7 linked regions of the Homo sapiens genome follow. The protein of the gene in region 7 interacts with the protein of the main gene of each other region in a pairwise test. Each region holds a gene or a part of one and is shown on either strand. Other genes may lie near its edges. The genes, in order: EXOSC10, ZNF783, ZMYND10, EIF3B, TRIML2, ABI3 and EIF3M.

The links.
Region 1: the proteins of EIF3M (region 7) and EXOSC10 interact in a two-hybrid assay, tested with the Homo sapiens proteins (one large-scale study listed by BioGRID and IntAct).
Region 2: the proteins of EIF3M (region 7) and ZNF783 interact in binary tests that used the Homo sapiens proteins (3 or more experiments, as listed by UniProt).
Region 3: the proteins of EIF3M (region 7) and ZMYND10 interact in binary tests that used the Homo sapiens proteins (3 or more experiments, as listed by UniProt).
Region 4: the proteins of EIF3M (region 7) and EIF3B interact in binary tests that used the Homo sapiens proteins (3 or more experiments, as listed by UniProt).
Region 5: the proteins of EIF3M (region 7) and TRIML2 interact in binary tests that used the Homo sapiens proteins (3 or more experiments, as listed by UniProt).
Region 6: the proteins of EIF3M (region 7) and ABI3 interact in binary tests that used the Homo sapiens proteins (3 or more experiments, as listed by UniProt).

The regions. Positions count from the first base shown.
Region 1 is NC_000001.11:11,089,870-11,093,369, reverse strand, and holds part of EXOSC10 (exosome complex component 10), read left to right. Parts: intron 1-1,772; coding exon 1,773-1,877; intron 1,878-2,190; coding exon 2,191-2,356; intron 2,357-2,701; coding exon 2,702-2,816; intron 2,817-3,500. UniProt on the Homo sapiens protein: Catalytic component of the RNA exosome complex which has 3'->5' exoribonuclease activity and participates in a multitude of cellular RNA processing and degradation events.
Region 2 is NC_000007.14:149,282,342-149,285,488, reverse strand, and holds the end of ZNF783 (zinc finger protein 783), read right to left. Parts: coding exon 3,146-3,147; 3' UTR 501-3,145; downstream 1-500. UniProt on the Homo sapiens protein: May be involved in transcriptional regulation.
Region 3 is NC_000003.12:50,342,933-50,347,074, forward strand, and holds the start of ZMYND10 (zinc finger MYND domain-containing protein 10), read right to left. Parts: upstream 2,801-4,142; 5' UTR 2,648-2,800; coding exon 2,556-2,647; intron 2,301-2,555; coding exon 2,192-2,300; intron 919-2,191; coding exon 802-918; intron 685-801; coding exon 631-684; intron 513-630; coding exon 375-512; intron 275-374; coding exon 186-274; intron 87-185; coding exon 1-86. UniProt on the Homo sapiens protein: Plays a role in axonemal structure organization and motility. Involved in axonemal pre-assembly of inner and outer dynein arms (IDA and ODA, respectively) for proper axoneme building for cilia motility.
Region 4 is NC_000007.14:2,361,327-2,364,826, forward strand, and holds part of EIF3B (eukaryotic translation initiation factor 3 subunit B), read left to right. Parts: intron 1-1,318; coding exon 1,319-1,438; intron 1,439-1,743; coding exon 1,744-1,801; intron 1,802-2,305; coding exon 2,306-2,434; intron 2,435-3,045; coding exon 3,046-3,203; intron 3,204-3,500.
Region 5 is NC_000004.12:188,099,604-188,103,103, forward strand, and holds part of TRIML2 (probable E3 ubiquitin-protein ligase TRIML2), read right to left. Parts: intron 1,671-3,500; exon of another isoform or gene 1,657-1,670; coding exon of another isoform or gene 1,648-1,656; coding exon 1,453-1,647; intron 1-1,452.
Region 6 is NC_000017.11:49,209,416-49,213,506, reverse strand, and holds the start of ABI3 (ABI gene family member 3), read right to left. Parts: upstream 2,801-4,091; 5' UTR 2,783-2,800; coding exon 2,666-2,782; intron 1-2,665. UniProt on the Homo sapiens protein: May inhibit tumor metastasis. In vitro, reduces cell motility.
Region 7 is NC_000011.10:32,593,831-32,597,330, reverse strand, and holds part of EIF3M (eukaryotic translation initiation factor 3 subunit M), read right to left. Parts: intron 3,466-3,500; coding exon 3,382-3,465; intron 2,418-3,381; coding exon 2,318-2,417; intron 1,366-2,317; coding exon 1,284-1,365; intron 1-1,283. UniProt on the Homo sapiens protein: Component of the eukaryotic translation initiation factor 3 (eIF-3) complex, which is required for several steps in the initiation of protein synthesis.

The sequences.
Region 1 (3,500 bases), on a different chromosome or scaffold from region 7:
CGTCTGCTTTAAAGTGCAAAATAGATGAGGACTCCCTGCAGTTTCATTCTAAATAGTGTACTTCTATATTTAATGTATGCAGTCCAGGGACTTCTTAGTTATTTTAGTGGCCACATTACACTGTTAAATCATATTAGAATTTTCAGCCCAATTCAGAGCTTTAAAGAGTCAATCGAGTATTGGGCATGGGTAATTACTGTCCTACCTGCCTTTGAGCAAATAATGCATTAATTACTTGGCATGACATACTAATGACCTTTATTGATCAACTTTGTAAAATTTTTATTTTTTTATTGACAAAAATTGTATAGGCGATCATTTACATGGTTATGTCTCAATAAACCTATATTATAAGTCAAAAATGCATTTAATACACCTCACTTACCAAATAGCTTAACTGAACCTGCTTTAAATGTGCTCAGAAAACTTCCATTAGTCTACAGTTGGGCAAAATCTTACACAAAGCCTATTTTTATAATACAGTGTTGAATATTCATCTCATGTAATTCAAGTAGCATTGAATACACTTCTGAAAGTGAAAAACAGGTTGTGGCCGGGCACAGTAGCTCATGCCTGTAATCCTAGCATTTTGGGAGGCCAAGGCAGGTGGATCACTTGAGGTCAAGAGTTCAAGACCAGCTTGGTCAACATAGTGAAACCCCATCTCTACTAAAAAATACAAAAATTAGCTGGGCGTGGTGGCGTGCACCTGTAGTCCCAGATACTCGGGAGGCTGAGGCATGAGAATTGCTTGAACCCAGGAGGCGAAGACTGCAGCAAGCTGAGATTGGACCACTGCACTCCAGCCTGGGCAACAGAGTGAGACTCCCTCTCAAAAAAAAAAAAAAGAAAAACAGGGCCAGGCACAGTGGCTTACGCCTGTAATCCTAGCACTTTGGGAGGTCGAGGCAGGCAGCTCACAAGGTCAAGAGATCGAGACCATCCTGGCCAACCTGGTGAAACCCTGTCTCTACTAAAAATACAAAAATTAGCTGGGCGTGGTGGTGCATGCCTGTAGTCCCAATTACTTGGGAGGCTGAGGCAGGAGAATCGCTTGAACCCGGGAGGCAGGTTGCAATTAGCTGAGATCACGCCATTACACTTCAGCCTGGCAACAGAGCAAGACTCTGTCTCAAAAAAGAAAAAAGAAAAACAGGTGGTAAGTGTACTTGAAATATGGATTCTACTAAATGCAAATCACTTTCACATCATTGTAAACTCAAAAACTTACAAGTCAAACTGTCATACATTGGGGACCATCTATATATTTATTACATACAACTTGATGTTTTGATACATACATTGATCTGTTCTTATATATGTATATTTTCTTACACAAATGTCTCTGAATACCAATCTCTTTAAAATGTTAGGTAATTAGGTGGGGCACGGTGGCTCACGCCTATAATCCCAGCATTTTGGGAGGCTCAGGTGGGCGGATCACTTGAGGTCAGGAGTTCGAGACCAGCCTGGCCAACCGGGTGAAACCCCATCTCTACTAAAAATAAAAAATTAGCCAGGTATGGTGGTGCACACCTGTAATCCCAGCTACTCGGGAGGCTGAGGCAGGAGAATCGCTTGAACCCTGGAGGCAGAGGTTGCAGTGAGCCCAATTCAGAACTGTAAAGAGTTGCAGTGAGGCAAGATTGCGCCACTGCACTCCAGCCTGGGTGACAGAGTGATACTCCATGTTAAATAAATAAAATGTTAGGTAGTTAACTCTGCTAACCTCAAAAGGAAAAATGCTTAACCAGTACCTCTTCTACTCTTAGGGTATTTTACTGGATGAAGCCTCAGGTGTAAACAAGAATCAACAGCCTGTCCTCCCTGCCGGCTTGCAGGTCCCCAAAACGGTAGTGTCCAGCTGGAACCGTAAGGTGAGGGCTTTTCAGATTAACTAGAGCTCTTGATGTCAGCTTCATAACAGAGATTTTGCTCATTCTAACATGCATTTCTGTTCTAATTTATTAGAGAACTGGCCACTGTCTCCTTTAGTTTGTTCTCATAAACATACACAAACTAATTACACCCTCTTCTTCTCTTTCTGGAGACCTCTACATGCACATACATTCTTAAATGAATGAATGACCTTTGCGATGTTCTTGTCTCCTCAGAAGTCATAAATTGGAATTTACTTTTCTAATTCATCAAGTTGCTGTGTTATAAAGTATTTGTATTCATTGATCATAGGCAGCAGAATATGGCAAAAAAGCAAAATCTGAAACTTTCCGGCTGCTTCATGCAAAAAATATCATCCGACCTCAGCTCAAGTTTCGAGAGAAGATTGACAATTCCAACACACCATTTCTTCCTAAAATCTTCATCAAACCCAATGCTCAGAAACCTCTCCCTCAAGGTAAATAGTGCATACTTTGCCTGTGTTTGAGTCTCACTTTATTTGATGCAAAAACCAGGAAGGGTGTACAGGTCTCTCTTCTTTGTTCAAAGGGAGCCCACCCTCCTTTGTTCAAAGGGAGCCCAGTTCAGCTATTCCAGAGGCTGAAGTGGGAGGATCACTTGAGCCCAGGAGGTCAAGGCTACAGTGAGCTGTGCTTGTGCCACCACACTTCAGCCTGGGGGACAGAACATGACCCTGTCTCAAAAAAAAAAGCCAAAAAACAAAGGGAACCAGTTTACCCCTGTGTAATTAGAAAAGACATGAATGTGCTAATGATGTTTTTGTCACTGCTGGGATCCCCAGCTCTCTCTAAGGAAAGGCGGGAACGCCCACAGGATCGTCCTGAGGACTTGGACGTCCCCCCTGCACTGGCTGATTTCATCCATCAGCAGAGAACCCAGCAGGTTGAGCAAGACATGTAAGTGTTGGCCTGTGTCTGACTTTCTGCCGTGAGTACTTACCTTTTTGCCACATTTTCACTTTTGTGGAGTATATACATGAAAACAATCTGAGGAGTAGTGATTTCCTCCTTACACCCCAACCTGGGCCTTAGCAATAAAACCTGCTGTTTGTGTTCACAAAGGGCCTACACAGCATTGCCTCATGTAAACCTCACTGCAGTCCTGAGAAGTAGCAGTTGCTCTTATTCCCATTTTATAGATGTAAAACACGAAGGCTGGGCGCGGTGGCTTACGCCTGTAATCCCAGCACTTTGGGAGGCTGAGACCGGTGGATCACCTGAGGTCAGGAGTTCGAGACCAGCCTGGCCAACATGGTGAAACCCCATCTCTACTGAAAATACAAAAATTAGCCAGGCGAGGTGGTGTGTGCCTGTAATCCCAGCTACTCGGGAGGCTGAGGCAGGAGAATCGCTTGAACTTGGGAGGTGGAGGTTGCAGTGAGCCAAGATGGCGTCACTGCACTCCAGCCTGAGTGATAGAGTAAGACTCCATCTCAAAAAAAAAAAAAAAAAAAGATGTAAAAGCAAAATTAGAGATGCAGGCTTCTTGTAGAGTTGGAACTTCTTTGAGACAGGGTCTTGCTCTGTCGCCCAGACTGGAGTGTGGTGGCATGAACACAGCTCACTACAGCCTTTACCTCC
Region 2 (3,147 bases), on a different chromosome or scaffold from region 7:
CAGCCGCCTCGGCCATGGCCCTGTGCTGGCCGGCCTGGGCAGGGAGTAGCCGCTGCCGTTACGCGCGGCCCCACACAAGCCCGGCTGCGCAGTCCTCTCCGCAGACGGCGTCAGCCCTGCTTTCCCCGCACGGACCGAGCTCGCGGGGCCGCCGGGGCTCGGGACACGCGGAAAACGCGTCAGCGCGGCAGCTGTGCAGAGACTCAACGGGTTGCGACCGGGTGGACCCCGCCCACATCCCGAAGCCAGATCCCCATTGGCCGGTGGTGGAAGCTCCGCCCCCCACTTGGCTGGCGCCTCCGACCCAGTGCCAGCTTTTCATTGGCCAACCCGGGAGGCCCCGCCCCCACAGCGTGCGCCGGGCCTTTGTGCACGCCCGACAGGTGCGAGCGCCCGCCCCGGGCTGGTGCCCAACAGCCCGCAGGTGTCGCCAGCTGCCACCGCCCCGCACGGCCACTCACCTCCCAGAGAGCAGAAACCAGATCAAGCGCACGCACTCGTTTATGCCAACAACTTTATTGAGCACCAATTAGGGCAAGGGACTACCACCTTCACAGTTCTCTTGGGCTTATTAACGTCGTGGCCCACTCATTTATTTCACAAATGAGGAAACCGAGGACCCTGCTGGGAGAGTTTGGGGCCCAACCAGGGCTCCCACTGAGTCTGGGGCACCCTCAGCTCCTGCACCACAAAGCTTCGGTTGACTTGTTTCAATGTAAAGAACGTTACTTAAACAGGTCTGAGTGCTAGGCAAACTCACAAGACCTAGCTCAAAGTTTGAGCACATTGGTATGAAAAAAAGAAAAAAGGAGAATCAGCACCTTGTGATATTTAAGCAGGGGCATTTGGCATTAGCCAACCAAGCCCAGAAAGTCGGCAAAATTCTTAGCCTGAGGCATCCCCAGAACACCTGAGACTAGCTCCTGCAGCTGAGGGTTAAACTCGTGCACCTGCACTTGCACCACATCCTGTCTGAGCTCTTGCTGACAGCCCGTCTCTGGTTTGTGAAGCTCCTGGCAAGGGTGGGGGGACTCCAGAGCAGACAAGCAGGATCCACAGCACAGAAGGGCAGTGCCTCTTCCCAAACCCAAGGGAGCCTGGCTGAACTGTCACTGACTTGTATACTCACTCTCCTCCCAGAGATGACAGCAATGCTACCATTGGCCCCCAACTCTGCTCAAGACTTTGGAAGAAGTGTGAGGGTCAGAAGGGCAAGGAAATGGCACATCCAGGGACCAAGACCCCCAGAAGCAGCCCTGAAGCGTGGTCACAGTGCCAGACAAGGCGGTAAAAAACAAGGATAGCTGGGGTCCCATCACTCCAGCTTCAGAGTCACCCACACCAAGGCTGCTCTACAGACAGCGTCCGCAGTGGTGTGATGAGAGACACCAGAAGCCAGCTGACCTCCAGACTGCCCCATGAGGCAGTCTGAACTGAGGCAGTCTGAACTTCTACAGTCCGAATCTCATGCTTTGGTAAGAATTTGTTCACCAAAATACAAAGGACTCCTGGGGAACAGAGCCCCATGGGCGACTCTTTCACTGAACCCAGTGGAACTGCCACTCACTCCAGAAGATAAAGGTCCTTCCTGAGGGATTCTGACAGGAAAAAAAGGCTGGAATGGAGTAGAAAGGAGGCCCTGAATTTGAAAGGAAGCACAAAGCTAGGCTTCATATTTGTCCCAGTGCCTGTTACTTTGACCCTGACAACTCTGAGGTAGGACACACTGGGGCCATGACCCCTTTGACAGAAGAGGAACATGAGACTAGCTGTGACTAAAGGATTCACCCAGATCTCCTAGCCCAACTCTGCCCCAGAGCCCAAAGTGCTCAAGGGAGAACTCCTTTGAGAGGAGACTGCCCCGCCTTTAATGTGAAAAGCAGGCCTGGAGGCCCAGGGTGGACGTGGTCCTCAGCCAGACCAAGGGCCTCCTCTAGTGGAGGGGCTTCCTGGGCTCTCTCTGCACTGCCCCTCAGGGTGCTTTCTGGGGTCCAGTCAATGGATCTTACACACCCATGAACACTGAGCCCTTGGGGAGACGTGTCCAGGCTTCAGTTTCCCCTCCCAGCTGACAACAAAAGTAAATAATGGATGTGACTATCCTGTGGGGAAGGACTAGGAATACTGGGAGTCACTCTGGGCCAAGAAACACACACATGGGGAGACACTGTGCCTCCAAGACAGCAGCCAAGACATCCCCATCAAAACCCACAGGCTGGGCCAAGAGTGGTGGCTCACGCCTGTAATCCCAGCACTTCAGGAGGCCGAGGTGTGCGGGTCACCTAACATCAGGAGTTCGAGACCAGTCTGGACAACATGATGAAACCCTGTCTCTACTAAAAATACAAAAATTAGCCGGGAGTGGTGGTGGGCGCCTGTAATCCCAGCTACTCAGGAGGCTGAGGCAGGAGAATCACCTGAACCCGAGAGGCGGAGGTTGCAGTGAGCGGAGATTGTACCATTGCACTCCAGCCTGGGCAACAAGAGTGAAACTCCATCTTAAAAAAACAACAACAACAACAAAAAAAAAACCAAAAGACCCACAGGCTGGTGGACGTAGCTCCCCTTTCAGCTCTGCGAGCCTCACATGGAAAAGCCGACTCTTTCCGACTTTGCAAAAGGCAAAGTTCCATTAACAACTACACACATTTACAAAAGTATTTCAAAGTCTCTATAAGAAGGGAAAAAAATTTCAAAATAGCAAAGTAGAAAACTTTCCAGGGCCCTTTCTTCAAGTCAGGCCATCCATCCACTCCACTCCACTGTTTCTCATGGTGACAGCAGGCAGGAGATCTCTGCACAAAACAAAAATCCCAGGTCCCCGATGTCTCTATCGCCCCCATACTGGAAGGGCCATGATCTCTGGTCCTCTTGGCTGTGGTACCTACCAGAGGCCTTATCAAAAATATGGCATCCCTTAAGCCTTAAGGCATCTTTTAGAAGTCAGGAATGCAGAAAAGGCAGCGAAGAGTGCAAACAGGAAACAGAAAGCACCCGGTCACACACAATGTCACCAGAAGGGCAGCTAGCTTCCCATTTGAATGGGTAAAAACAACAAACCTCTCTCCATCCCAGGAAAAGGAAGAACCTGCGTCAGGCACAGGGGAGAGACCCCGCCAGGGGTCCTCTGTGGGCTCCTGCCAGGTC
Region 3 (4,142 bases), on a different chromosome or scaffold from region 7:
TCCAGGGACTATGCTCCAGCAGTTCCACCAGGAGGCAGGGCAGGTTGTGTGTGCTAAGCATACGGCTCAAGGTGCTGAGAGAGAGGCTAGGGGCAGGGACGTTGTGAAGGAGGTGAGTAGAGGCAGGCTACAGGCCCGGTCTTCCAGCCCTCCACAGTAGGCCCAGGCCCAGTCGGACTGCTCACCTGTCCACACAGTCTGTGATGTAGCGTAGTACTGAGAGGGCCTTCAGTGCAATCTCAAATTCCATCAGCTCTGCCTGCTTCTGCAGCTCCTGGGAGGTCACACAGTGTTCACGCTGGGCCACCCTCACCTGCGCAGGCCTTGGGGAACCCAGACCTAGGCTTTCACAACCCTAGGTAACCTCAACCCACCTGCATGGGGTTGCTGTCCTGGGATCCCTCCCCCTCAGGGGGGCCACCACAGCCACTCTGGGCCACCAGCAGGGTCAGTTTGCGGTGGCAATAGTCTACCAAGTCCAAGACAGTGTCTTCTGCTGACTCACACACCTCCTGGGAAAAGGAGGAGGGAAACTTTCTGTGTCTGATGCCTTCCCCACACAGACACAATCTCCCTTCCTGCCAGGCCCTGACCCGGAACTGTGGCCCATGGGCAGAGATAGTCCCTCACCTTGTGGAAGAACACTGTCTCCAAGAGGTTGATGATGGAGGCCTCGTGGTGCACCTGTCAGATAAAGAGAAGGACAGGGCCTGAGGAAGGGATAGGGGCTACCAGCTCTCCTCCCCGGTCCAGAGCCCTCTGAAGGAGTGAGAAGAGGTATGAACCAGGGGCCCAGCTCACCACCATGTAGATGGGGAAGGTGTTCTGGGGCTTGAAGTCCTCCACCCTGCAGAACACAGGGAACACCTTCTGCTTCCACATCTCCACTGCGATCAGCTCCTCCACCAGTGTTGGGACCTTTGAAGGGTAGGGTAAAGGACAGGGATGAGATGGGCCTACCTTTGCCTGGCAACCCTCCCATCCCCGGCTCAGCTCAACCCTGATATCCCCAAACACTGCTGGGCCCCTAAACTATTCCAGACCCATGAGTATCCTTCCTGACTTCTCTCTTGCACCTTGGACCTTCATTACCAGCTGCTCCCAACACCTCTGTGGATGTCCCTCATGCTTATGTGACTGGCTCCTGCCCAGTTCCCAGACTGCCTTGCCCTGCCTGCACCTGCACCCTTATCCTCTGCCCGCCCATTCAGGCATCCCTTTCAAGCCAGCCCTTCTCCTCATGCCCTCCCTCTAGTCCCTGTCTGTGGTCCTCCAAAGCTCTTGTGTGCCTTGGCCTCACTCCTACTCAGGACCCTTCACAGTGCCCTGTTCCTATCCTATCCCCTAGTATGAGTTCCATCTTTCTTTTGCAAAGGACCTTTCTTTTTTTTTTTTTTTTTTTTGAGACGGAGTTTCACTCTTGTCACCCAGGCTGGAGTGCAGTGGCATGATCTTGGCTCTCTGTAACCTCTGCCTCCCAGGTTCAAGCGATTCTCCTGCCTCAGCCTCCCGAGTAGCTGGGATTACAGGTGTGCACCACCATGCTCTGCAAATTTTTGTATTTTTAGTAGAGGTGGGGTTTCACCATGTTGGCCAGGCTGGCCTTGAACTCCTGACCTCAGATGATCCACCCGTCTTGGCCTCCCAAAATGCTGGGATAACAGGCATGAGCTACCATGCCCGGCTTTTTTTTTTTTTTTTTTGGTCAATTGATATCTCAGGTCATCTGCTGGTGACACTCCCTGGTCCATGTTCCAGCCAGGCATCTCCCTGGTTTCTAACTTCCCCCTTTCATGTTGGGAAGGCTGCTTCCTTCCATGCCGAAGTTCCACCTCCAGTTAGGTTATCTCCCCTCCCTCCCGCCCTCCCCAACCCCTCCCCACCCCTTCCCCACCACCAGCCTTACAGTCAATTCACAGATGCCTTTAGCATTTGGGCCTTCCCCTTGAAGCCTAAGCTGTTCTAGGACCTACAGCTTTCTCCCTAATCAACTCATGCCCTGCACCCAGCCTGGTGTGCCAGAGTCCTGTCCAATAGGGATACAAAATGAAACATGTAACACATTCCTCTTTGTCCTTCAGGGAGAACAGGTGTACCAGGCCAGAGGGGAAGGGCACACAGGGGACTCCGGAGGGGTAGAGTAGGTGAGGTATGGGGGAAGGCAGGAACCCTGCCTGTGACCTCGGGGTACCTTCCCATGGGTGACCAGCAGCTCCTGAATGGGCTCGCCCTGGCTGACTGTGGCATCGAGGATGGCTTGCATGTTCAGCTTCTCCAGGTTCTCATGCTGCTGGTTCCACCTGCCTCAGAGGGTAAGTGCATGTGCGTCCACGTGTGTGCATTAGGAGTGGGGATGGGGGCTGGATCCTACTGAAGCCTAACCTGATCCTGAGGGGACACAGGGGGCTCAGGAGCAGTAATACTCCTGTCTCGGAACGCTCTGCTCCCCCATTTGGGAGCCCCTCCACACTGGGCAGCCCCTCCCCCGAGTCAGGCCCCAGCTCCCCGACTCAAGGACAATGACTCCGGGACTCCGCCTGACCCGGGTGCCTCACCCTTCGGAGCCCATCTCGCGTAGCGGGAAGCTGCGCAGACCCCGCACCAGCACTTCAGCTTCCCCGGGCAGCAGCAGTTCCAGGTCTCCCATATCGAGGCCGGGGTCCGGCGGATCCTGGGCAGCAGCCGGGGTGGGGATGCTGTCACATTCGGGGACGACGGACCCCGACGGTGCCAAAGTCTGGGACAGGACAGTTGCGGGACGGTTGGGGAGCGTCAGTTCTCGCAGCCATGGAAACGGGTTAGCCGCGCCTGCGCAGTGCGGCCTGGGCCCCGCCCCTGGAGGTGGCTCGCGCCTAAATCCGGGCGGGTCTCTAGCCCGCCTCGCCTACGCGACTGCCAATCGCCATAGTATTTGGATTCCCAGCGCTTTCTCGGGCTGTGGCCCACGAGTCTCTCCTGAGCTCCAGATCCTTGTGGTCTGGACTCTGTCCTCAGACGCCAAGTCCGCCTGCACAGGGATGGGGGTAACCCCGACCCCAACAGCCCCTCCTGCGGCTGTGGCATCTTGACCTACCCGCTGCTCTTCCTCCTCCTTATGGCTTCTTGGTTCCTCTATTTCTCGCGTCCCGGCTCCACTAGTTGGCTCCTGAAATACTGCCAGGGCGCACGACTTCTCTCCATCCTCCCTATGTCCAGACTGTCATCACCTGTCATGGGTGAACTGCGGCAGCCTTTTCTGTAGACCTACTTCCACGCTTGATCCTCATGGACAGCCCGGAGCCTTAAAAGTGTATATCAGGCCGGGCGCGGTGGCTGACACCTGTAATCTCAGCACTTTGGGAGGCCGAGGCAGGCGGATCACTTGAGGTCAGGAGTTTGAGACCAGCCTGGGCAACATGGTGAAACCCTGTCTCTACTAAAAGTACAAAAATTAGACAGGTGTGGTAGCACACACCTGTAGTCCCAGCTACATGGGAGACTGAGGCAGGAGAATCGCTTGAGCACAGGAGGTGGAGTTTGCAGTGAGGCAAGATTGCACCACCGCACTCCAGCCTGGACAACAAAGGGAGACCGTCTCAAAAAAAAAAAAAAAGCATATAGACATTACTCCCTTGCGTGAGAGGGGCTCTGTGGCTACTTCTGGCCCTCAAAATGTTAGGTGGGATGCCGCTTACTAGCAGCTCTGCAAGATCTACTTCTTGTCCTCTCCTGTACCTCGGGACTTGGATTCTTTCCTCTCCTCCTTGCTTCCCTGAACCTCCCTCATACATTCCAAAGAGGTTTTTGCCTCAGAGTTTTGCACTTTGCCTGGAATACTTTTCCTTCAGGGCTCAGTTTACACCTCAGCATGGCCTTTCTTGGCCATTTAATCCAGAGCAGTCCCTGCCTCCAACCCAACTCACTCTTGATCACATCTTTTTTTGAAATTGAGTCTCCTGTCACCTAGGCTGGAGTGCAGTGGCATGATCTTGGCTCACTGCAACCTCTGCCTCCCAGGTTCAAGTGATTCTCCTGCCTCAGCTTCCTGAGTAGCTGGGATTACAGGTGTGCACCACCACACCTGGCTAATTTTTTGTATTTTTTTTTAGTGGAGATGGGGTTTCACTATGTTGGCCAGGCTGTTTTTGAACATCTGACCTCAG
Region 4 (3,500 bases), on a different chromosome or scaffold from region 7:
GCTGCTGCATTTTCTGTGTTGGGCAGTCAGTTGAAGGATGGCCTCTTGACCCTCAGTTACTCGTGTTATAATGAAACATTCTCTGAGGTTCTTTCTTTCTTTCTTTTTTTTGAGTCGGAGTCTCGCTCTGTCGCCCAGGCTGGAGTGCAGTGTCGCAATCTCGGCTCACTGAAAGCTCCGCCTCCCAGGTTCACACTATTCTCCCGCCTCAGCCTCCCTAGTAGCTGGGACTACTGGCGCCCGCTACCACGCCCGGCTAATTTTTTGTATTTTTAGTAGAGACGGGGTTTCACCATGTTAGCCAGAATGGTCTCGATCTCCTGACCTTGTGATCCACCCGCCTCGGCCTCCCAAAGTGCTGGGATTACAGGCCTGAGCCACCGCGCCCGGCCTCTCTGAGCTTCTTTCTAATCTTGCCTGTAATACACAATATTAGACTACTTTTAAGTTTTTTTTGTTTGTTTGTTTGTTTGAGACAGTCTCACTCTTGCCCAGGCTGGAGTGCAGTGGTGTGATCTCAGCTCACTGCAACCTCCGCCTCCCGGGTTCAAGCAATTCTCCTGCCCCACCCTCCCAAGTAGCCGGGATTACAGGCGCACACTACCACGCCTGGCTTGCTTGCTTGCTTATTTATTTATTTATTTATTTATTGAGACAGAGTCTTGCTCTGTCACCCAGGCTGGAGTGCAGTGGCACGATCTTGGCTCACTGCAACCTCCGCCTCCCAGGCTCAAGCAATTCTCCTGCCTTAGCCTCCTGAGTAGCTGGGATTATAAGCATGTGCCACCATGCCCGGCTAATTTTTGTATATTTAGCAGAGACAGGGTTTCACCATGTTGGCCGGGCTGGTCTCGAACTCCTGACCTCAAGTGATCTGCCCACCTTGGCCTCCCAAAGTGCTGGGATTACAGGTGTGAACCATTGCGCCCAGCCAAGATTTTTTTTTAAACAGCTTTATTGAGATAATTGATATACAGTAAATCTGCATAGTTTTAAAGCGTACAATTTAATACATTTTGATGTGTACATATCACGAAACCATCGCCACAGTCAAAATAATGGACGTTTTGATTAACTTTTCTATAATTATGATAATGAAACTAGAGACTTCGGATCTTCTGGTTAGGATTTCCCTGTCACTTAGGAGCTCCCTGGCTGTGGATCTGTCCCCCGTGTGACTGCCTTAGGCTCGAGGCAGGAAGAGCAGCACAGATACTCCTGGCACCGAGGGCTTGTCCGTGGAGAGGGGTGGGGCGGACAGCGCATACCTGCCTAGCCTTACAGTGTGGGTATGTGCCAACGGCCCTCTCTCACTCAGGTATATTTTCCTGGAGTACGCGTCCCCTGCCCACGCTGTGGATGCTGTGAAGAACGCCGACGGCTACAAGCTTGACAAGCAGCACACATTCCGGGTCAACCTCTTTACGGATTTTGACAAGTGAGTTCAGACTTGGCCACAAGGAAGTGGACGTTGACGTGCAAGTGACTGGCTGTGTGCGGGTGGCTTGGTGCTTCTCGGTGCTGGTGTCTGTCAGATTGTTCACATCCTTTCTGGTCAGGCTGCCGCAGAGCCATTTCACAGCCCTGCCCCACACTTCTGGCCTACAGCACCCCTCCCTGTTATGCCAGTCACAGCCCTGGGGGCGGGCAGGCAGGAGCACAGCAGGGCCATGCTGGAGCCCCCACGAGTTGCTCTTTCTAGTCGTCAGGGCGTGGGGCTCAGCAGTCTCCTTTCTTCTCCAGGTATATGACGATCAGTGACGAGTGGGATATTCCAGAGAAACAGCCTTTCAAAGACCTGGTGAGTGGCCTGAAACCTACATCTCAGTGGTTTAAAGAAATGCTGCTGGGTGTGGTGGGTCACACCTGCAATCCCAGCACTTAGGGAGGCTGAGGTGGGAGGATCGCTTAAGCCCAGGAATTCAAGACCAGCCTGGGCAACAAAGTGAGACCCCCGCCTCTACAAAAAGTAAATAAATACATACATTAGCTGGGCCTGGCATGCACCTGTATTCCCAGCTACCTGGGAGGCTGAGGGGGGAGGATCACTTGAGCCTGGGAGGTTGAGCCTGGGAGGTTGAGGCTGCCGTGAGCTATGATTGTGCCACTGGACTCCAGCCTGGGCAACAGCGTGACTCTGTCTCAAAAAAAAAAGAAATGCTAGACGGTGTCTTGACTTGAGGTTAGGGTGTGACTTGGGAGTTAAGATGTGGACTGAACTTGTCATATCTTTAAGAGCAATAGTTGTGAATGAGTTTTTTATTAAAATTAATGAAATGTTATATTCCTTGTCTTTGTTTTTAAGGGGAACTTACGTTACTGGCTTGAAGAGGCAGAATGCAGAGATCAGTACAGTGTGATTTTTGAGAGTGGAGACCGCACTTCCATATTCTGGAATGACGTAAAAGACCCTGTCTCAATTGAAGAAAGAGCGGTGTGTATTTGCTGCTGCTGGGGGCGGGGACTCACCTCTCCTGTATTTCCTTAACAAAGTGGAACTTTGTTTCTATCAGAAAACTGGAAGAGCAGGTGACGTTATATTTTCTTTGAGATTACTTTCTGAAAACAACTTCTTTTATTCCTCTTCCAGCTTTGAAGTAAATCCTGAGAAGTGAACAGGCTTTGTGTATTTCACTTAAGAGTTTGCAGAATAGGCCGGGCGCGGTGGCTCACGCCTGTAATCCCAGCACTTTGGGAGGCCAAGGTGGGTGGATCACGAGGTCAGGAGATTGAGACCATCCTGGCTAACACGGTGAAACCCCGTCTCTACTAAAAATACAAAAAAATTAGCTGGGCATGGTGGCAGGCACCTGTAGTCCCCGCTACTCGGGAGGCTGAGGCAGGAGAATGGCATGAACCTGGGAGGTGGAGCTTGCAGTGAGCTGAGATTGCGCCACTGCACTCCAGCCTGGGAGACAGCGAGACTCCGTCTCAAAAAAAAAAAAAGTTTGTAGAACAGATTCATTGTAGGATAAATTCATTGTAGGAGGGGTCTTTGTGTTTGCCATTTTGTTGTATTAACGTTGGCACTGCCTTTTTCTGCAGAGATGGACAGAGACGTATGTGCGTTGGTCTCCTAAGGGCACCTACCTGGCTACCTTTCATCAAAGAGGCATTGCTCTATGGGGGGGAGAGAAATTCAAGCAAATTCAGAGATTCAGCCACCAAGGGGTTCAGCTTATTGACTTCTCACCTTGTGAAAGGTAAGCTGCTAGAAAAACACAGGGGAGTCTATGCATTTCACCCCATGCCAGCCTTCTACAGGTGATCTTTCATTTTGTAGCATTTCAAACTTAGTAGAAAAATACGGGAGTATGCAGAACGCTAATAAGCTTTTTACTGAGATCTTCTCACATTTGGTTGCATTTACGTCATCATCTCCTATACAGATATTTTTTCCTGAGCCATTTGGGAGTGAGTTGAAATAACATGTCCCTTTAGCCCTGAATGTGTATTCCTAGAAATAGGATTTTGTTAGTGTGACCATAGTGTGGGTACTG
Region 5 (3,500 bases), on a different chromosome or scaffold from region 7:
CTGCTTTTCTGCCTGCTACCCCAGGAACAGACATAATTAGGCAAGGCCATGATATTCTTCTGCTGAAGCAGGATTCCTCTCAAGAGACAGTTGATTCTTTGCCCCCTGTTATGTATGTTTAAGCCAATACAGATGTGTGTGCACGCAGCCCTTACTCACATTAATATGCACCTAAAACATTTCATGTTTTTTCTGTGGCTGTTTGTTCAGAAGGTTCCCTATTTTTTCATTAACTTGAAATCAATTAAAATTAAGGTATATAGATTAACTAATAAGAAATAAATAATTACGTTACTGATATCAATTTTCTTTTTATCCTTCCAAGTATACTTTACATATACTGCGTAGTCACATACGCAACTTGAGTATGTTATTTAGGGGGAAAAAACATAAACATAAGTGATAGTTTATTATATTTGATTACTAATCTGACAACTTACTTTATTCTTGGAGAACATTCCTTATTCATATACACAGAGCCATGACATCATCTTAACATGCTGAAGAGTATTCTTCCATGTATGTATGGAGCACATTTTGTGAGTCTTCTATTGACAAATACAGGGTGTTTCTAACCTCTTGCTATGAATGTTATAATTGTAACATCTGCTACTCATCAACTGCTTAACATGAACAAGACACGATTTAATAAGCTTTAGCAGATTATCTCACTCAAATCTCACAATAATTTTATAAATTAGGGGTCACTGTTATATCCAGTTTACAGCTAAAGGAACCAAGTCAAAGGTTAAGCAGCAGGTCGTAGGCCACCCAGGAGCCAGTAAACAGCTGGCTCAGATAGGAACTCCATTCATCCGGCTTCAAAGGTGAATTCTAGGCCGGGCGCGGTGGCTCACGCCTGTAATCCCAGCACTTTGGGAGGCTGAGGCGGGTGGATCATGAGGTCAGGAGATCGAGACCATCCTGGCTAACACGGTGAAACCCCGTCTCTACTAAATATACAAAAAATTAGCCGGGCGTAGTGGCGGGCACCTGTAATCCCAGCTACTTGGGAGGCTGAGGCAGGAGAATGGCGTGAACCCGGGAGGCGAAGCTTGCAGTGAGCTGAGATTGCGCCACTGCACTCCAGCCTGGAGACAGAGCCAGACTCTGTCTCAAAAAAAAGAAAGGTGAATTCTAAACCATGGCTCTAAACTGAAACTCAGTTTCAGTGTTGCCTTACCCAGGTGTCTTTTTCTATGTGTGTAAGTATGTTTGAAGCATAATACAGTAATATGTGTACAAATATATTTATAGGTATATTGTGCTTTATTTATGTCTTTTTATATGCATGTCAAGATAAATTCATAGAAATGGAGTTGCCAGGTAGGTATATAATTCATTTAATACATGTGTGGTTGTCACTGGCTATGTTATTTTGGAATTGACATAATGTTTAGCTCTTCTTTTTCTCATTTCTCAAATATGAGGATGTTGTTTTCAATATCTCACCTGTAGCATTTCCTGGAACATCTCCTCTAGCTCGGTGGCAAGCTTGATCGCTTGATTCAGAAGGGTTTCTCTCAGGTTCAAGTCAGATATGCATTCCTGCTGTCTCTGGAGATTCTGCTCACACTCTTCATTCAACAACCGGAGTCTCATACTATACTCAGACTCAATCATCTTTTTAAAATTTTGTTCCTCTTCCTTCCTCATATAGACATGATAGACTTCAGGTTAAACATGATAGATTAACAACACACACACACGTCATAATAGATAGATATCTATATCTATATATAGATATATATATCTTACACTGACCACAATGTATTCTTTCCATCTCTAACCCCAATATAAAGACAAGGAAGGCTGGGCGCAGTGGCTCACGCCTGCAATCCCAGCACTTTGGGAGGCCAAAGTGGGTGGATCACGAGGTCAGGAGATCGAGACCATACTGGCCAGCATGGTGAAACCCCATCTCTACTAAAAATACAAAAATTAGCTGGGCGTGGTGGGGAGCACCCATAATCCCAGCTACTCGGAAGGCTAAGGCAGGAGAATCGCTTGAACCTGGGAGGTGGAGGTTGCAGTGAGCAGAGATTACGCCACTGCACTCCAGCCTGGCAACAGAGCTAGACTCTGTCTCAAAAAAACAAACAAACAAAAAAAGACGAGGAAATGTAAAGTACAGAAGAAAAGGAATAAACCCAAAGGAGAAATAGAATTTGAGTCAACATCAGCCAAGACATCAACACAATTTTAGAACATAAAATGCAGACGAAGAAATGTTCATCAATGAATTGGCTGGGCGCGGTGGTTCACGCCTGTAATCCCAGCACTTTGGGAGGCCGAGGCAGGCGGATCACGAGGTCAGGAGATCGAGACCATCCTGGCTAACACGGTGAAACCCCGTCTCTACTAAAAATACAAAAAATTAGCCGGGCTTGGTGGCGGGCGCCTGTAGTCCCAGCTACTCGGGAGGCTGAGGCAGGAGAATGGCGTGAACCCGGGAGGTGGAGCTTGCAGTGAGCCGAGATGGCGCCACCGCACTCCAGCCTGGGCGACAGAGGGAGACTCCATCTTAAAAAAAAAAAAAAAAAAAAGAAATGTTCATCAATAAGGAAAAACTAAGGAAGCTATAGCCTCTGTCAAACAGAGGAGGAGACCAGGACATTGGAAAAGGGCCAATGGGATTTGCTGATGCTTGGGTAAGAGTTGTGGGGAAAAAAGGAGTCATGGACGAAAGACACCAAAAATTTTAGACTAAGCAACTGGAAGAATGGAATTACCAAAATATATAGAGAGAATCTATGGAAAGGCTGGATTCCAGAAGTGAGGAGTGTGCGTTAGCTCGGGATGTGATGAATTTGATTAGTCAATTAGACATCCAAGTAAAGATAGTAAGTAGGAAATTGGACATGAAGCCTACTACCATTTGGAAATCTGAGCTAGGGATATATATTTGAAAGTAGTCATCTTAGAGATGCTTAAATAGCATCTCTATTAAGCTATTTAAGATTCAGTGAAATTGTCCGGGCTCACGTCTGTAATCCCAGCACTTTGGGAGGCCAAGGCAGGTGGATCATGGGGTCAGCAGTTCGAGACCAGCCTGACCAACATGGTGAAACCCCGTCTCTACTAAAAATAAAAAAATTAGCCAGGCATGATGACGGGCCCCTGTAATGTCAGCTACCTGGGAGACTAAGGCAGGAGAATTGCTTGAACCCGGGAGGCGGAGGTTGCAGTGAGCCGAGATCGCGTCACTGAACTCTAGCCTGGGTAACAAGAACGAAACTTCATCTCAAAAAAAAAAAAAAAAAGATTCAATGAAATCAAGATTTATCAAGAACCTGACTACTTCTCACCACTGCTCTACCTGTCCCCCAGCTCACCATCATCTCTCCCTAATTATTGCAAGTCCCTTTGCACGTCTCTCCACCTCTGCTTTTACTCTCTTGGTTTTTTTTTTTTTTTTTTTTTTTTTGAGACGGAGTCTCGCTCTGTCGCCCAGGCTGGAGTGCAGTGGCGCCATCTCGGCTCACTGCAAGCTCCGCCTC
Region 6 (4,091 bases), on a different chromosome or scaffold from region 7:
CATCTGGGTGGTGTGGGGAGAGAGGGGCTGCAGGTGGGGTTGGAGGGTAGGGGAATCAGGCCTTAGGTAACAGAAGTTCTGAGATCCAGAACCTTCCTAGGCATTTGCCTAGATAAAGATCCTCAGAAAGGCCAGGAAAGGTAACAAGTTGTGTGTTCTAGTAGTTAGTACTCTGCACGAAGGAAGCAGGAGTCCAAGGATTCCAACTTGGGTCAGGGCTTCTCATGCCCTGCATATTTTTGCAAGGACAGCTTCTCCTCCCTAGAACTGATTCTTATTATCCATCCTTCCAATGAATGGTAGTGATGGTCATTGTAAGAGCTGCCATTTATCCTGCTCTTCTGAAGGGGCTGGCACTAGGCTGAATGCTTTGATACATTTTTATATTGAATCCATGGAGCCACCACTGAAGGCAGGCATGAGAATCAGAGGAGAAACTTGCCACAGTTCCTGTAGTTGGTAGGTGGCAGAACTGGAAATTTGACTTAGGTCTTTGCGACCCCAAATTGTGTGTGCACACTGTGTGTGCAAATGAGAGCCCTGTGGAAGCTCTTTGAGGTGTGCAGAAGTTATGGAAGGAATGGAAAGGACTGCTTGGATCCTTGTCCATAGAGGAAACATGCCTTTCCATGCTAGGAGAATGAGCTGGTTTGCAAGCCTCATTCTGTCTCATCTGCAGGTGGTCACTCAACATCTACACAGACCGAAATGATACCCAGAGTAGCATTTTCAGTTAGTGGCATAGGGAGTGGGCTCTGGAATCAGATTTCTGCGTTTGAATTCAGGCTCTGACACTAGCTAGGAGACTTCTGGGAAAGTGACTTAACCTTTCCAAACCTCAGCTTCCTCACTGTGAAGTGGGCATGGGACTCGCCTCACCGGACTTCAGATGAGGATGAAGGGAGGCCATGCTGGTAACATGCCTGGCCCAAAAGAAGGGTCCAGAGCATTTTAACTGCTGTCATTACTGACTGTCTTTAATCTGCCATTTCCCATGAGCACTTGTTACTCATTTACTTCTTTTTTCAACATTCTTACTATGCTACAAGGTCCCTGTGCCTGTTCTCATAGTTTGGTTAGTACAGGTTAGAAAAATAAAGTTTTGCCCAAGGGGTAACAAGGTTAGTCTGCAGCTCTTCAGGGAGCAGAGGAAACCGGGGACAGAGAGTGCTAATAAACTGTCGTAAAGTCACATAGCGTGTAGGGAGGCAGAAAGATGGAGAGGAAAGAGCTTGGCATCAGGATTCAGGGAAGCCCAAATGTGGTGGCTTATGCCTGTAATCCCAGCACTTTGGGAGGCCAAGGTGGGCAGATCACTTGAGGCCAGGAGTTCAAGACCAGCCTGGGCTACATATGGAGACCCTGTCTTTACAAAAAAATTTAAAAAATTAGCCAGGCATGGTGGCATGCACCTGTAGCCCCAGCTACTCAGAAGGCTGAGGTGGGAGGATTGCTTGAACCTAGGAGTTCAAGGCTTCAGTGAAGCTACGTGAGCTATGATCATGCCACAGCACTCCAGCCTGGGTGACAGAGGAGACCCCGTCAAAAAAAAAAAAAGGCTGGCTGGGCACAGTGGCTCACTCCTGTAATCCCAGAACTTTGGGAGGCCAAGGCGGGTGGATCACCTGAGGTGTCAGGAGTTCGAGACCAGCCTTACCAACATGGCGAAACCCTGTCTCTACTAAAAATATAAAATTAGTCGGGCATGGTGGTGCATGCCTGTAATTCCAGCTACTCAGGAGGCTGAGGCAGGAGAATTTCTTGAACCCGGAAGGCGGAGGTTGTAGTGAGCCAAGATCGAGCCATTGCACTCCAGCCTGGACAACAAGAGCGAAAAAAAAGGAATGCCTGGCTCTGCTGTTTGGAGCTGTGTGGCCTTAGACAAGTCACCTCACCTCCCTGAGCTACTGTTTCCACATCTGTAAAATAGGAATTATAATACATGTCTCACAAGGTAGTTGTACAGATTAATGAAATAACAGAAGTGATTTCCATCATGGCTCAGTTGCCTTGCCTCTCCTCCCTGAATCCAGGAATCTATGTTCTCAGCCCCAGGACAACCACACAATTTAAAACCTGTTCTACAATGCCACCTCCCTATCTGTTGCTAGAAGCCTGCTCCCAGCAGTTATGTGGGCCATCCCCCTGCCTCTGCATGAGATCCCCTCTCTTTAGCCCAGCCTACTCTGCCTTATCCCCACTCTCCCTTTCCCAAACTCAGGGAAAGAGCCCCTTTCCCTTGTCCATCTCAGGTTCACTGTGCTGTTTGGGAAGTTCTTCTGAAGCCTCACCCAGAGCCGGCCTGGAAATAGAATGATCGCCAGCATCTGTGTGAGGACGGAGGCTTTGGGTCTCTGGATTGACCCGTGGGAACTCAGAAGGATGAACCTGAGGTGACACCTGAGAACAGGATGGAATCGCACTGTCTGTCCCAGGCATCTCTGAGGCTCTGAGAGACAGAAGGGGCACAGTGGGGGCTTGGGTAGTATGGGGTCAGGGTTAAGTATTGGGGTCTGGGATGAAGCCGAAGCCTGGAATGGGAGGATTTCTCAGCCAAGGCCCAGGACAAGCACTGTCAGGATGGGTCCCAGGGCCCCACTTGGGGCAGGGCTCAGGGTCCCCCCTCCGGGGGCTGGGGTGTCAGGCTTCCGCCCGCTCTACCTACCTGCACATAGTTGTCCTCGCAGTAGTCAGCGACCCGCAGCAGGGCACTGTGGTTGCCCCTCAGAGCCTCCCGGCCAGTGGGGATCTCAAACTCCTGCAGCTGCTGTAGCTCCGCCATCACCCCCAGCCTCTGTCTGGCTCCCCAGGGAGCCCGCTCGTTTTGAGTCTCACCCTGCCCTTGATTGGTTGCTCTGCCTTCCCTCCCTCTTATTGCTTTTGGTTTCCTCTGCGTGAGACCCAAACCTGCTTGCAAAGGGCAGGCATGCTCATTCCGGGACAAGAGGAAGTCAGTCCTGCTCCCCGAGCCTGTGTCTCTCTGTCCCCTGCCCAGAGGAAGGGGGAAGCCAGGGGCCCATTTGGGGGCCCAGCCCCCAATCCCACCCAGCAGAGGAAGCCAAGGTCGGGGCAGCTGTGATTGCTCCCTGGTCCTGGAGAGGAAACTGGTCGGCTGGGGGATGGGGTCGGAGACTGGGGAGGAAGGGGGCTGGCCTGCTATAGGGGGCGGAGGTGGATTTTCCACTCATGGAAGGCGGGAGGAAAGGGCAGAGGGTGGGGGCTTCCTTGGGAAGCTCAGGGATGAGTCACCAAGGGACAGGGGAGTGGAGGGTGGATAGGATATGGAGATCCGTCATACCAGAGGACTGTGGGGCAGCAGCACAGCAAAAATAGAAAACAGCCGATGCGGCAGCAAGAGGGGTCAGGGTTGGACACCGGGAAGACATGACCAGAGAGGTTGCCAGAGGGGTGTTAGCAAGCCTGCGAAGGGTTGTGTGTGATGAAGATCTGCCCTACACGCTCTGTGCAGATGAAGGCAGGACAAGATGAAATTGACCAAGCGTAATGTGAGGGACTCAGATTAGACAACAGGAAGGACTTGGATTTGAGAAGCACCAGGTTCAAATTTCAGATCAACTTGCGGTTTTAGGAAGCAGCGGTGGACAGAGCACTGAGCCTGCCTAGGAGGTATGGGCTGTGGTTCACGCATTAACAGGACAGTTGTACCAGACAACCTCCAGGATCCTGTTCTGATTTCAAATTCTTAGAGCTCCCAGCTGAGAGTTGGACTGGGTCCTGGAGCACGGAAGTTAGGATGGACGGCGGGCCTCCTCTCTGCCCCTCCCACCACCAAGCCTGTCATCCTAGAGACAGGAGAATAAGAGGACCTCCCATTGACCATATTGGTCCCTTAACTTTTGCTCCTCCAGCGGGTCCCTTGTCATTGGATGGGTGTCAACCAGAGCAGGAGCTCAATGTCTGTTAAATGGCATAGCCCTTGGGTGGTCCTGGGGGGACAGCAAGAAAAAAACCAGGATGTGGGTTCTGTGCTCAGGAACCCACATTCAGGGCTCAGAGGGAGGCATGGCAGCAAAGAAGCTTGAACAGAGGCATTAGAGGTGGCCACGCCCCAAGTACTAAGTGGCACAGCT
Region 7 (3,500 bases):
TATTTGTTACCATTCTGTGGCTATGGCTTAAAAAAAGGGACCAAAAATACAAATCACCATATATCTAAGGAATAAAGTCTTCTACAAAGAAACAATATTATTTTAAGAATAATGTTTAGCTTAATAAAGTACCTTTAATCATCAAATTTTATCAGCTCTTAAAACATTTCTGAAAGTTACCATTATGATCAAAGTAATGGTAATTCTTTCAGTTGCTTTTCTGCTCACTCCTCCATCTCTAAATTTTAAAAACAAATGTACCAATGGAACTATTTCTTCAATCTTCTCCAAACACCCGATTGTTGATATAACTTTACCTCAAAGAATCATGGTACAGAAGAGCTGGAAGGGCCTAAAGTTCAGCAAGCTCTTAAATGAGACAAAAAGGTTCCAAGTCATTTTCTCTCTCTTTTTTTTTTGTTTTTTGAGATGGAGCCTCACTCTGTCATCCAGGCTGGAGTGCAGCAGTGTGATCTGAACTCACTGCAACCTCTGCCTCCCGGGTTCAAGTGGTTCTCTTGCCTAAGGCTCCTGAGTAGTTGGCACTACAGGTATGTGCCACCATGCCCACTAATTTTTGTATTTTTAGTAGAAATGGGGTTTTGCCATGTTGGCCAGGCTGGTCTTGAACTCCTGACCTCAAGTGATCCACCCACCTCATCCTCCCAAAGTGCTGGGATTACAAGTGCTAAGTTGTTTTCTTTTCTTTCTTTTTTTTTTTTTTTTTTTTGAGACAGACTCTTGCTCTGTTGCCGAGGCTGGAGTGCAGTGGCACAGTCTTGGCTCACTGCAACCTCCGCCTCCATCTCCCGGGTTCAAGCTATTCTCCTGCCTCAGCCTCTCAAGTAGCTGGGACTACGGGCACCCGCCACCGCGCCCGGCTAATTTTTTGTATTTTTAGTAGAGACAGGGTTTCACCATGTTAGTCAGCCAAGATGGTCTCGACCTCCTGACCTCGTGATCCGCCCGCCTCGGCCTCCAAAGTGCTGGGATTATACCTCTAAGCCACCGCGCTGGGCCCCGAGTTGTTTTCATACTCCCAGTTTCATTCTCTTTCTATCACAAATGCCACCTCCTACACCTTCTTGGTTTCTGATTCTCAATTCATTCTAAGTAATATTTTAAACTGTCTACCTATTTTTGTGCTGTTCTATCATACACGACTCCTTTTAGGATAATCTACAAATAAGGCCACAGCCATACTTGCTGGAACACATAGTACATAACTGTTAGTGTATCATGTTCCCACCTCTGTGCCTCAAAGAATAAACCCCAAAACTTACCAAGTGAATCAATGAAGTCTTTATTATTCTGATAAAACTTGACATATGATGCCAATTTAGCACTCACAAAAATGGTTAAAAGCTATACAGATAAGAGACAAAAAAGATACCATCAATACAGAATTCAGATTTATTGTAAGATATTCTAAGATATTGTAAATATTATTTTAAAGATACTGACTCCTACATTTTGTTCAAGGCAGAAATATCATTCTGTTTCATCAAATTACCAAACCATCTGCTTTCACATGGCTCACTTTTAAAATGAAATAATCAGTAAATACACTGAGCTCTAAATTATCCACACTGAAAGATGATGGCTAATGGCATAGTCCAGATGCACAACAGTCCAAAATATATTTATACTTGCATTTGAAAAATGTTCATGTGTTTTTAAATATCAGACTTATATTCCTAAGTGGGGCTAGGAACAATATATATGTAATAAAAAAGAAACTTGTATTATCTAAGTCTATAATGATGAGTAAGTGAGAAGATGAAAGAAAGGGAGGTAGCCGGGCACAGTGGCTCACGCCTGTAATCCCAGCACTCTGGGAGGCCGAAGTGGGCAGATCATTTGGGGTCAGGGGGGTCAGGAGTCGGAGACCAGACCAACATGGCAAAACTCTGTATCTACTAAAAATACAAAAATTAGCTGGGCCTGATGGCATGTGCCTGTAATCCCAGCTACTTCTCCTGGAAGCTGAGGCAGGAGAATTGCTTAAATCAGGGAGGCAGAGGTTGCAGTGAGCCAAGATCATGCCACCGCACTCCAGCCTGGTGACAGAGTGAGACTCAGTCTCAAAAAAAAAAAAGAAATTAAGAAAGGGAGGAAGAATAGGACTCTGCTCAGTGGATGAAGAAAAGCTGGTCCTAAATATGTCTGTTCCTGATATAAAAAGAATACATAGTTCTTAATCTTTCCATATCTTGCCATTAGTCACTTTTATTAATGCAAAGAAAAAGAGTCCTGCTTCAGTATGTAAAATTTAGGAAAGGAGAACATTTTTCACATTAAAGGATAAACTACTTACATCATGAATAAGCTCGCCTTCCAAAAACTTGACTGGTTTTAAAGTAAGAAGGTGGTCAAAAAGAAATGCATTTGGATCTTTCAATGCTCGTACAATACACCTTAATTAGAGAACAAAAATGTAAGCTCAGGGTTTTGAAATCCTGGCTTTTCATTGAGTTTTTGCAGATCATAAAATATACTTAATTCGGCAAAATATCTAACAGTCCAAAACATATAAACAACATTAAAAAAGCTACAGGATTGGGTTAAGACAGGCCAACACATTTATCAGGTTCATCTGTTTTAACAAAATGAAATATATTAATTGTAGATAAAAACATAGCTGGAGAGAAAGCACCAAGGTAATCAAATAGTAAGCAGCAGCAGAACCACATGCCAAGACACTAAGTGCTTCACTTGCCTTACATCTCATTTATTCCTCACAACAACCTAGGAGACAAACAGTATTACTCTGCCCCCTTTATCAACTATGAAGCAGTTCAGAAGTGCTCATTAAGAGGTGGAGTAAGAATGTGAATGGAGGCAGCCTGACCTCAAAGTCAAGGATCTTTACCACCAACTTCCCTTTTTACCAACTCCTATCATGTAGAGGTCCACACAAAGCAATGACCAAAAAAAGAAGTTTCATAATCCTTATTACATAGATTTAGAAAACTGATTCTATTCTTGTTACCAGTTAGATCTAAGACTGTTAAAAGCCCTTATACTCATTAGCAATGGGTTAATTTTTGGCAAGCCATCAACTTTCCACCTATAACCTTAAAATTAGGGTCAATTGGCCCAAGATTAGGTTCTAATTCTTGGGTTGGGATCATCATCCCCATACCAGCAATACCCCCCCCGCCAGGTAAACGCCATGCAGCTACTTCATATTCAATCCACAGTTCTTCCAATATCAAACCTTGAATTTTAGTATCTACATTAGAATCACCAGGAAATACACACTATCAAATGGCTCTGGATCACTGGTAGTTGCAAACATGATTTCAGTTACTTAATTTAATATTGTAGCTTACCTCTACATCGCTGTCAAACCCTCATCAGAGTAACGTTTAACATTACCTGTGGGCATCAACTCGAGCCTGGGAAGCATTGTCCTCTGTGTAACTTCCGAGCAATTCCACCATGACTTTTGAAGCAGCATCACTAAAAAGAAATATTGCTTTAGGAACTTGAAAGCA